3 linked regions of the Homo sapiens genome follow. The protein of the gene in region 1 purifies or fractionates together with the protein of each later gene. This does not show direct contact. Each region holds a gene or a part of one and is shown in the gene's direction. Other genes may lie near its edges.

Region 1 (3,748 bases):
TTTCACTTTTTCTCCATTTTGACTTTTTGTTGTTGATACTCTGTTAGACAGCGACTTTCCCCTTTTGTTAAAGAAAGGGCTCCATACTGAAATGTTTTCTTTTATTTCCTTCAAGTTGAAAAAGCATCAGAATCTGAGGAGTCAGATGAGGATGACGGTCCTGCACCTGTTATAGTAGAGAATGAAAGCTATGTGAACCTTAAGAAAAAGATTTCCAAAAGATATGACTGGCAGGCAAAGTCAGTACATGCTGAAAATGGTAAAATCTGCAAGCAGTTCCGAATGAAACAGGTAGGGTATGCTGAGAGAATGAGTAACGTTGCCTCCCTAATATCTGGATGATGGGATTAGGAATTAGGGAGCTTTGGCTACCCTCCTTAAAATTCTTCTGGTTCTTTTTCTCCCTGAGTGGTCAAAGTTTCTACAGGCCACAGCAAACTTAAGTGCATATGCTAGATGGTTTTGGAAAATCCTATAGCTGGTACATAGCAAACACACACATATATGCCAAATAGTCTCAGAGTCATGTGCCTTTGGTACTGTGACAGACAATCTGGTATGTAAAAGGAATATCAATACTGTGGTTTACTGGCCGGGCACGGTGGCTCACACCTGTAATCCCAGCACTTTGGGATGCCAAGGTAGGCAGATCACCTGAGGTCAGGAGTTCAAGACCACCCTAGCCAACATGGCAAAACCCTGTCTCTACTAAAAATACAAAAATTAGCCGGGCGTGGTGGCAGGTGCCTGTAATCCCAGCCACTTGGGAGGCTGAGGCACAAGAATTGCTTGAACTTTGGTGGTGCAGGTTCCAGTGAGCCATGATTGCACCACTGTACTCCAGCCTGGGCAACAGAGCAAGACTCTGTCTCAAAAACAAAACAAAACAAAATAAAAACAAATACTGTGGTTTAGAGCCAGGCGGGCGTGGTAACACATGCCTGTAGTCTCAGCTACTTGGAAGGCTGAGGCAGGAGGATCACTTGAGACAATGCCAGCCTGGAAAACATAATGAGTCCCTGTCTCTAAAAACAAAACAAAACAAATACTGCGATTTACCTTAGAAAAAATTAATATATAAAAGGAGAAGGATAAGGAAGGACTTTTACCCTGTTTCAAAGACTCAAAGGATAAATAATGTGCCCAAGATCGCATAGCTAGTAAGTGGTTTAGCCAATTCTGTTTCTAAAGTCCATTTTGTTTTTACCCCATTCACATGAAGATTATTTTAAAAGAATTCATAAGTGAATCCTGAGGGCAAAGTTAGAGATAGGACAGAGGCAAGTTGCTTAACCAATATGGGAATTGGATTAAATGCTCTCTAGGCCCTCCAGTTCTAAAGTTCTGTGAGTCTGATTTTTGACACCATGTAACACCATCACATATGTAGTACAATACCCAAAGAACATCACAATGTATATAAATTGCACTGTAGGTAAGATGATAGAAACAAAAAATTAGATATTCAATTTGATCAGTGTGATAAGTTTATGATAAAATTATATGTAGGAAATAGCAAGTTCCTGTAAATTTATTACAGTATTCAAAAGTATAGCCAGAGTTTTAACAAACAAGGCAATTTTTATAGCATTGGCCATTAAATATGAAATTGATTTATATAGTTGTAGTGACTGCCCAAAAATAACCCTTTAGTGAGTGCTTTTCTATTATTGATTTAGGTAAAAATCTGATATTGCTTAGAGCTACGCTGTCTGATATGGTAGCCCCTACCCATGTTTGGCTGTTTATATTAATTAATTAAAATTAAAAATTCAGTTCCTCAGTAACACTATTCTTCACATTTCAGGTGCTCAATAGCCACATGTAGCCAGGTGTTGCTGTATTGGACAGCACAGGTATAGAACATTTCCATCAACACGGAAAGTTCTATTGGACAGTACTGGTATAGAGACTCTTGTTGGGAAGAACTGGATATGTGCTAAGCAAGAGGGCTTTATTTCACCCAGAAAATCTTTCGGTTTATTCAGATGTTGGAAAACTAATGTACAGATTCCACAACTCATTCTGGCTGATTCTCTGAGCAGCATTCTGAATAAAGTCTTCTACATCCAATCCCAACAAATCCAACAAAGGATCACTCAAGGCCAGGAGTGCAAGACCATCCAGGGCAACATAACAAGACTCTGTCTCTATAATTAAAAAAAAAAAAAAGCTGTAATCCCAGCACTTTGGGAGACCAAGGCAGGTGGATTCTTGAGCACAGGAGTTTGAGGCCAGCCTGGGCAACATGGTGAAGTCCTGTCTCTACAAAAAAATACAAAAAGCCGGGTATAGTGGCACACACCTGTAGTCCCAGCTACTTGGGAGCTTGAGGCGGGAGGATCGCTAGAGCCTGGGAAGTGCAGATTGGAGTGAGCCGTGATCGCACCACTGCACTCCAGCCTGGCAACAGAGTGAGACCCTGTCTCAAAAAAAAAAAAAAAAAAAGAAAAAGTAACCCAACTGATATCTTATCTTTGATTTTATTAGGCTTCCAGACAGTTCCAGTCCATTCTGCAAGAGAGGCAATCACTCCCTGCTTGGGAAGAAAGAGAAACCATTCTTAACTTATTGCGTAAGCACCAGGTGGTTGTCATAAGTGGTATGACTGGGTAAGAATGCAGTTTATTCATCTGTAGCTTTCATCTATAAATATTATATGCACCCTGGTTACCATAACCAGTTGAACTTGTTAAAAACTGTAGCTGGATTTATAGATATTATATACATCTGCCTTGAGACATAAGGCAAAAAAATCCAGCTGAAGACTTTTAACAAGGCTCATGTTTAAATTTAAAGGATAGTTCTAGAACATTTAGCTTGAGAGCTTTTTATCTTCTGAATTTATTCTGATTTCCTGTCACGCAGGCTGGAGTGCAGTGGCATGATCTCGGCTCACTGCAACCTTTGCCTCCTGGGTTCAAGTGATTCTCATGCCTCAGCCATCCGAGTAGCTGAGATGACAGGCGCACCACTGTGGTGCACCACCATACCCAACTAATTTTTGTGTGTTTTTAGTAGAGAGGGGTGTTTTACCATGTTGGCCAGGCTGGTCTCGAACTCCTGGCCTCAAGTGATCCGCCTGCCTCGGTCTCCCAAAGTGCTGGGATTACAGGTGTGAGTCACCACACCCAGCCTTTATTTTTCTTTTAAAAACAACTTAATTATGGTGCGTTATTTTTCCTGCTTTACATTCTCCTATTTAGCAGGGACAAATTGCAGACTTCATTTATTTATTCAAGAGTATACAATTTAATAATTATATTTGTGTCCAGACTCAGTGATATGGTAATAATTCGTACCTTCTAGTTTATCTTTTTAACCTCAGCCTAATCATAGCTAAATTAATACCTATAAAATATTTTGATAATCATAAGCTAATACTCCTTTTCTTTGGGGTTCATGTGTAGAGTTTACGTTCCTAGAAGCATTTACAGACCTTAATTTAATGTCTGTTCAATAGTCCCAATTTTACAAATGTTACTAAACTATTATTTGATTGTCCTTTTGATTGGAGTGCAAATTCCTAGAATTTCCCACCTCTTGGTAATAAGTCAGGAGGTTGTTTTAGAAAATACCTGAAACTGAACAACTTTTATTCTAATTAGCTTTATCACTTTTCTCATTCCATATGATTGCTTCTTTAGTTAACTAGCCCTTGAAAACTTCATTTTAGGACTTATTTGTTTTAATGTACAGATGTGGGAAAACCACACAAATTCCGCAGTTTATTCTGGATGATTCTCTG
Region 2 (3,748 bases), on another chromosome or scaffold:
CAGCCTGAAACCCTGTCTCTACAAAATATACAAAAGTTAGCCAGGCGTGGTGGTGTGCGCCAGCTACTTCGAAGGCTGAGGTGGGAGGATTGCTTGAGCCTGGGAGGCGGAGGTTGCAGTGAACTGTGATCATGCCACTGCACTCCAGCCTGGGTGACAGAGCAAGAGTCTGTCTCAAAAAAAAAAAAAAAAAAAAAACCAGGCTGGGCGCGGTGGCTCGCACCTGTAATCCAAGCACTTTGGGAGGCCGAGGTAGGTGGATCACAAGGTCAGGAGATTGAGACCATTCTGGCTAATACGGTGAAACCCCGTCTCTACTAAAAATACAAAAAATTAACCCTGCGTGGTGGCACACGCCTGTACTCCCAGCTACTCCGGAGGCTGAGGTAGGAGAATTGCTTGAACCTGGGAGGCAGAGGTTGCAGTGAGCCGAGATCGCTTCACTGTACTCCAGCCTGGGTGACAGAGTGAGACTCCGTCTCAAAAAAAACAAAACAAAACAAACTTTCTCAGACATCATTTCTTCTTCAGGGAAGCCCTTCCTCCCCCACTAGATAAGTCCCCTTGCACACCCTCCTCCATTCCCTCCATTGTAGGAGCTTTGGTCCCAATTATGTGAAATAGTCCCTTGCTGGAGATACCCTGCAAGTCTCATCCCCAGCACTGCTCTTTGCACCTAATAAGTGTTCGTGACTAGTTGCCCCTTGCTGGCTTAGCTGACCCTTGTGAACTATTCCAGCCGTGGAGTCAGATCTGAATTGTGCCCATTTGGAAGAGGACCTTTCTGAGCCTCTCTGACCTGTTTCCGAAGAAGGGATTATAAGAACTGTTTCCCTCTGGGTGGTTGGGAGGAATTGGCACAATCAGATGTGTAAAGCACTTAGCGTGGTTCCCAGCTCATGATGGGCAGACAAGTGTATGGCACCACTCACTCACACCCCCTCCACCCTGCCCACTCCAAGGCTGGAGGTCCTGGGCTGCTTGGGCTGTATTTCCGTATCGTCTTCTCAGGCATAAACCCAGGAAAATATCTGAATTCAGCTGGGGGTGAGGGAAGGAGAAATAGTGTCTGTTCCTTCCCAGCTGGCAGAGTGGGTAACCAGGTGTCTGTAGCTGAGACCAGGGACTTACAGGCTCTATAAAGGATAATATAGGGTAACCGAGAATAAAGTCTGGGGCTTCTCCAAGAAGCCGATATGGGTAGTAGACAGAACCCTTGGAAGCCAGACTGAGCTGGGTTCAACTCTCCAAGGCTGGGGCTGCTTCCCAAAGCTGTTATTATGAAGTGGAATGGACCTTAGAAGCCAGGCAGCCGTGGGTTCAGATCTCAGATTGGCTACTTGTCAGCTGGTGCCTAACCTTTGAACCCTTAGTCTTGTGTGCAAAATAGAGACTCTGCCGCCGCCCCAAAACAGATGAAAATTAGATGGAACCTGTGTGCAAGTACCTGAGCTAATTTAAAAGTTAACATATAGTAAGTGCTTAAATTAGGATCCATGCCAGGCATGGTGGCTCATGCCTGTAATCCCAGCACTTTGGGAGGCTGAAGTGGGAAGATCGCTTGAGCCCAGGAGTTTGAGACCAGCCTTGGCAACACAGTGAGACCTCATCTCTATTTAAAAAAAAAAAAAAAAAAGGCCAGGCACGGTGGCTCAAACGCCCATAATCCCAGCATATTGGGAGGCCAAGGTGAGCAGGTTATGTCTCTACTAAAAATACAAAAATTAGCCGGGCTTGGTGGCGCATGCCTATACTCCCAGCTACTTAGGAGGCTGAGGCAGGAGAATTGCCTGAACTCAGGAGGCGGAGGTTGCAGTGAGCCAAGATCACGCAACTGCACTCCAGCCTGGGTGACAGAGCGAGACTCCATCTCAAAGAAAAAAAGAAAAAAAAAGAAAAAATTAGGAGCCAGGCACAGGTCTGGGGCCATTATCCTCTTTTTACAGTTTGTGTGAAGACCTTCATGTTGAATGACCACCTAAAGGGTTAACTTTAGTGTTCCTGTTGCCCCATGTGATCTGTTTAGTTGAAATTATAAAAATACCCAACACTGGTTCTCCCTCTGTCCCACACTAGCTGTTATTTTGGACAGGTGACCTGACCCCTCTGTGTTGCACTTTTCTTGTTCTGTTACGTGGAACTGGAATCATGCCTTTATCAGGTCTACTGAACCTGTACCATCCAATATGGTAACCCCTCACTACATGTGGCTATTTAAATTTAGATAAATTAAAATTAAATAAAATGAAAATTTTTTGTTGCATTTGTCACATTTCAAATGCTCAGCCACAGTGACTAGAGACTCACATTTCTTGGACAGTACAGATATAAAACATTCCATCATCGCAGAAAATTCTGTTGGACTGTGCTATGCTAGGCACTGGGGTAACAACAAAGAACTAGATTCAGTGTGTGCCCCCAAGTGTGACAGGTGCTGTGACTGGAGCTTCTCATTCTTGGTGAGTCCCAGATGCAGCAGCCTGGAGACTATTGAGACCTTGAGAAGTTTAGAGAATGGGGAATCATTTCTGCACTTGCAGAAACCTGGGTTGTATCCCAGCCCTGCTACTGCCTTCCTGCCTGAGTAGCCAGAAGTGAGTTGACCTCTCTGAGCCTTGTTCCTCATCTGTAAAATGGAAGCCCTAGTAGTAGCTTCTGCCCTAAAGTCCAGGTAGTGCATGTGAAATTAATGCTTAGCCAGTGGTAACCAGCCTTGTTATGCACCATTGTTATTACTGACTCCCCAGTCCAGGGAATTGGGCAGGGAGGGCTGACTTGGAGGGGTCATTTCTTGGCAGTGGTATGCTGCCCTGCCTGCTTCCTCTGTCAGGATCGGGGAAGCATTCAGGGTATTGGAGCCATGGATTCAAATCTACTTGGTTTTGCCTTCAGGGCTTTATACTCGCGTTCCCTCTGGCTGGAATGCTGGTCCCCCTAGTTTTTGGGGTGTGTGTTTGTTTGTTTTGAGACGGAGTTTCACTCTTGTTGCCCAGGCTGGAGTGCAATGGTGCGATCTCAGCTCACCACAACCTCCACCTCCTGGGTTCAAGCAATTCTCCTGCCTCAGCCCCCCGAGTAGCTGGGACTACAGGCATGCACCACCATGCCTGGCTAATTTTTTGTATTTTTAGTAGAGACGGGGTTTCTCCATGTTGGTCAGGCTGGTCTCGAACTCCCAACCTCTGGTGATCCGCCTGCCTCGGCCTCTCAAAGTGCTGGGATTTCAGGCGTGAGCCACTGCGCCCGGCCTGTTTGTTTTTTAAGAGAGGGTGTCCTGCTGTGTTGTCCAGACTGTTCTCAAATTCCTAGCCTCAGGTGATCCTCCACCACCAAGCCTTCCAAAGTACCGGGGTTACAGGTGTGAACCACCCCACTTAGGCCCCCTAGATCTTTACAGGCCTTGCTGTCTTCTCATCATTTAGATAACAGCTCAAAGACCACCTCCTCAATGGCTTCTCCTGTCTACTTACACTAAAATATTGCACACTCTCCCTCCCCATCATACAGTTACTGTTTATTTCACTCACTTTATAGAATCTGTGCTTTGAAATCCTGTTTATCAGATTCTGAATTATATGAAGGCCAAGGGCTTTGTCTTTTCACTGCTGTATTCTTGCTGCTTGCAATATAGCCATCAAAAATATTTGTTGAGTGAACAAATTAATTCTGTTTCCACCTAGAAAGCACTTAGCATAGTGCCTTATACTTGAGAAAGTGATCAATAAATGGTGTAAACAATGGTCCTCAC
Region 3 (3,748 bases), on another chromosome or scaffold:
AGACCCCCCAGCAGGGCCCCAGGACATTGTTGGAAGTCGCCCTCAGGTTCTGAGCCCCTCCCTTCTGTACTGTGGGGGTCATCCCGGGAGTCCTCTCCTGGAGCTCTGTGCCTGGGGAGGTACGTCCAGCATGGCATGGATGGCGGGCTTCCATAGGGGCCTTTCCTGGCTTGTTCTTTTCTGGGAGAAACCTGAGCCGACTGCCACCTTCCTCGGGTGTGTTTTGGGTAAAGTCTTGAGGCCAGAAAGATCTTGCATCCCTCAAGCACTCTTGAGCTGGTGCTGAACCAGGGCACAGGCAGGTCCCGCGGCGGAGTCTTGAGCTCTGCCTCCTTCGCACTGTACTGAGCTGAGTGTGAGGATGGTGCCAGCCCAGGCCCTGCAGTTTCTGGAGCCCTCGATGTTCATTGTCTCGCGTGAGCCTCACAGCTGCGTGGCAAAGTCAGTTTACTGGGCAGAGCACATTTTCCCATTTCACAGAGGAGGAAACAGGCTCAGAGAAGTTAATCCGTTGGTCCAGAGTCACACAGTAAGACCTGGAGCCCAGACTCCATCTCCTGCCTCCTGTTTGGACCCTGAGGGTTCGGGGTTGGCTGCCTGCTCCTGGAACCCCCACCCAGTGTCAGAAGCTCCTGGTCCAGGCAGTAGCAGGCTGCCTGCTCCCGGCCCAGCGGAGGCCTGTACAGAGCGTGATGGGCCCTGTGTCTGTTGCAGGTGCACTGTGAAGAGTTCATCCCCGAGTTTGAGAAGCAATACCCAGAATTTCCCTGGACGGACGTCCAGGTAATTCCTGTCCTGCACACCATCGCAGGCCGGTGGGGCGGGTCCCGGGCTGGGGGCCTGCAGGAGCTGCTCCCTTCCCTCTCTGCTGGCATGGGCTGGGAGGGACCTTTGTCCCCTGCAGTTGGTCATTCTCCCCAGAGGCTGGCAAGACAGCGTGGGCTCCCCTCCCTTCCACCCTGGGCATTTGTGGGTGCTCCTGAGAGGGAGGGAGCTGGAGGGGCATGTGGGGCACCCCTGGGACAGCCAGAGGGTGGCGGCACTGCCTGACCCTAGATTCCCAGTCATATGGAGACGTTGGCTGGGCCTCCATGTCCAGCAGCGGCATTCTGGGTGCTGTGTTGAGCTCCTTGGGGCAGTGGGGAGCAACGGGGTCTGCGGCAGGAGATGGGCAGATTTGCAGAAGGTGGGCGTCAGGAGTAAGAGGGCAGGTGCTGGGCGGAGGTGGCCATGGTGAGGTCTAGAGACGTGAAGATGTGGGAGGGGGTGACTTGGGCCACGTGGGGCCCGGGACTTGGGCAGGGGCAGCAGACCCCCTCTTGAGAGGCTGTTCTGAGCAGGCCTCGTAACTCAGGCTCCCCGGTCCCCAGGCTGAGATCTTCCGGGCCTTCACGGAGCTGTTCCAGGTGGCCTGTGCCAAGCCACCACCCCTGGGCCTCTGCGACTACCCCTCATCCCGGGCCATGTATGCCGTCGACCTCATGCTGAAGTGGGACAACGGCCCAGATGGTAAGAGGGGCTCCCCATCTCCTGATCCAAACCAGCAGGCGCCCCCTCCGCCAGCCAGCCACAGCCTGGAGAAGGCAGGCAGCTGCCCCAGGCTGTCCTCTGGCTTGAATCAGCCAGGAATCTGGGTTGGGGAAAGCCCTGGCTTGGCCCACAGGAAGTGCCTGCGGTGCAGAGTCTGGAGGGGAAAGGCTGCGGGTTGGGCCTCTGAGTCGGGGGAGAGCTCACAGGACAGGAGACCCGTGTGAAAGGCACCCTGACCCCAACCCACACCACCCTGGCTGGCCTTCCCTGTGCCAGACCCCCACACAGTACACTGCTGCTGCATATCTACTTTTTTTTTTTTTTACTAAACTGAACATCCAAGCTTAAAGGGCCAGGCTGTCATCCCTAGGGCTGGAGGCAGCCCTGGCCTCTCCTAGAGAAGCAGATGTCAGGCCAGGCCTCCCCAGCAAAGTCAAGAGACCCAAGTTCTAGGCCCGGCCTTGTCCTGCTCATCCCCTGGGAATCAGGGCCCAGGTTCATGGCCTCCCAGCCTTTGCTGGATCCCCAGGCCACTGTCCCTGCAGAGTGGAGGCCAACGAGCCTTCACACTCTGCTGCGCTCTTTGCCATCAGGAAGGCGGGTGATGCAGCCGCAGATCCTGGAGGTGAACTTCAACCCCGACTGTGAGCGAGCCTGCAGGTACCACCCCACCTTCTTCAACGACGTCTTCAGCACCTTGTTTCTGGACCAGCCCGGTGGCTGCCACGTTACCTGCCTTGTCTAGGCACTCGCTGTCCCCAAAACCTGTGCTTGGGGCAGGATTCCAACCTCAGTTCTCTGAGCTGCTTCTGCAAAGGCCCCCATGTCCCTCCCCACACCGGCCCTGGGCATAGCCTCAGCCCCAGGCCTCTGTCCTGCCGAGCCATCCTCCCGGCGCCACACTCCGGGAGCACAGCATCCTCCTCTCACCTGTGGGTCAGAGCAGGACAGTGATGGTGTCCCCAGGGCTGAGCACCACCCCACGCCCTGCCCTCACCCCTCACCACCATCTGTGCACTGATGAGTCTCCAGTTTAGCCAAGGGCTTTGTTCCTGGCATGGAGAATTTGTTCCTGGCTGCTGTGTTTCCAGGGGGTGCTGGGGGAAGGGTTCCGTGGAGCGAGACAAGGTGTCCTCGGGAGCAGGGTTCCACCGGGAAGCGTTTGGGAGCCCTGTATCACACGGGGCAGGCGGGTTTCTCTTCCGGGGTCTCTGCTCTTATGCATCAGGACGACCCCGGGACGGCTGTGGGGCCCCACACTGCACCCACAGGGCTCTATGCGACAGGGGCCCAGGAACAGCCTGAGGCCACCACCCAGCAAGCCCGCCTTATCACCCATTCCAGCTCACCCAGAACCTTCACCAGCAAACCTCCTGCTGAGGTCCTGGCAGGAGGCCACCGTCTTGTTACCGTTTCCTTTTCGTTTGCTGAGGGTCACAGACCCCAACAGGGAAATCAGTATCTGTCTTCCCAGTGGTTGCCCTGCTCGCCGGGCACTCCACGGGGTCCCGCCCTTGTGTGAGATGGGCCAGGATCCTTCGGCAAGGGGCGCCTGGGGCTGGGGCTGATTGTGGGCGGTGGAGCGCCAGACAGAAAAGGATTCCAATGAGAACTTCAGGTTAAAGTCAGATGCCACCTACCAGGGTCTACAGTCAAAATGTTGGCTTTTTCTTATTTTTTAATGTATGGGAGAAAAATGTAAAATTCCAGTTCTTTTCTAATTGTGTTTCTGAAATTAGGAGTCAGCTGCCAGCGTTTTTGTGTGGCTGCAGTGTGCCTGGGCCCAGCTCACGGGCAGTGGGTGGACCTAACTGCCCAGGCAGGCGAGAGCTACTTCCAGAGCCTTCCAGTGCATGGGAGGGCAGGGCTAGGTGTAGCGGTGTCTCCTCTTTGAAATTAAGAACTATCTTTCTTGTAGCAAAGCTGCACCTGATGATGCTGCCTCTCCTCTCTGTGTTGTCTGGGCCCTTGTTTACAAGCACGCGTTACCCTTCCTGAGGGGAGCCATGCTCTAGCCCCTGGAGGGCCTGTTGCAGGGGCAGGGCGGGCCCGTCGCCTTTGGCAGCTCCTGGAGAGCTGTGGACATGCAGTCCCCCTCAGTTCGTGCTGCAATAAAGGCCATCTTCTCTTATTTCTGCCCTCCTTTCTCTTTGGACCCTGGAGCCACAGGCTCAGCCTGGCCTGTCGCCCCGGCTGTCACTGAAAAGCCCCGGATACC

What was found.
Region 2: the proteins of DHX57 (region 1) and SESN2 purify together in Homo sapiens (affinity purification with mass spectrometry; 2 studies listed by BioGRID and IntAct, with this or other methods). This does not show direct contact.
Region 3: the proteins of DHX57 (region 1) and TTLL12 purify together in Homo sapiens (affinity purification with mass spectrometry; 2 studies listed by BioGRID and IntAct, with this or other methods). This does not show direct contact.

Annotation. Positions count from the first base shown.
Region 1 is NC_000002.12:38,855,204-38,858,951, reverse strand, and holds part of DHX57 (putative ATP-dependent RNA helicase DHX57), read left to right. Parts: intron 1-115; coding exon 116-291; intron 292-2,490; coding exon 2,491-2,612; intron 2,613-3,699; coding exon 3,700-3,748. UniProt on the Homo sapiens protein: Probable ATP-binding RNA helicase.
Region 2 is NC_000001.11:28,262,446-28,266,193, forward strand, and holds part of SESN2 (sestrin-2), read left to right. Parts: intron 1-3,748. UniProt on the Homo sapiens protein: Functions as an intracellular leucine sensor that negatively regulates the mTORC1 signaling pathway through the GATOR complex. In absence of leucine, binds the GATOR subcomplex GATOR2 and prevents mTORC1 signaling.
Region 3 is NC_000022.11:43,166,535-43,170,282, reverse strand, and holds the end of TTLL12 (tubulin--tyrosine ligase-like protein 12), read left to right. Parts: intron 1-714; coding exon 715-783; intron 784-1,370; coding exon 1,371-1,509; intron 1,510-2,123; coding exon 2,124-2,275; 3' UTR 2,276-3,661; downstream 3,662-3,748. UniProt on the Homo sapiens protein: Negatively regulates post-translational modifications of tubulin, including detyrosination of the C-terminus and polyglutamylation of glutamate residues. Also, indirectly promotes histone H4 trimethylation at 'Lys-20' (H4K20me3).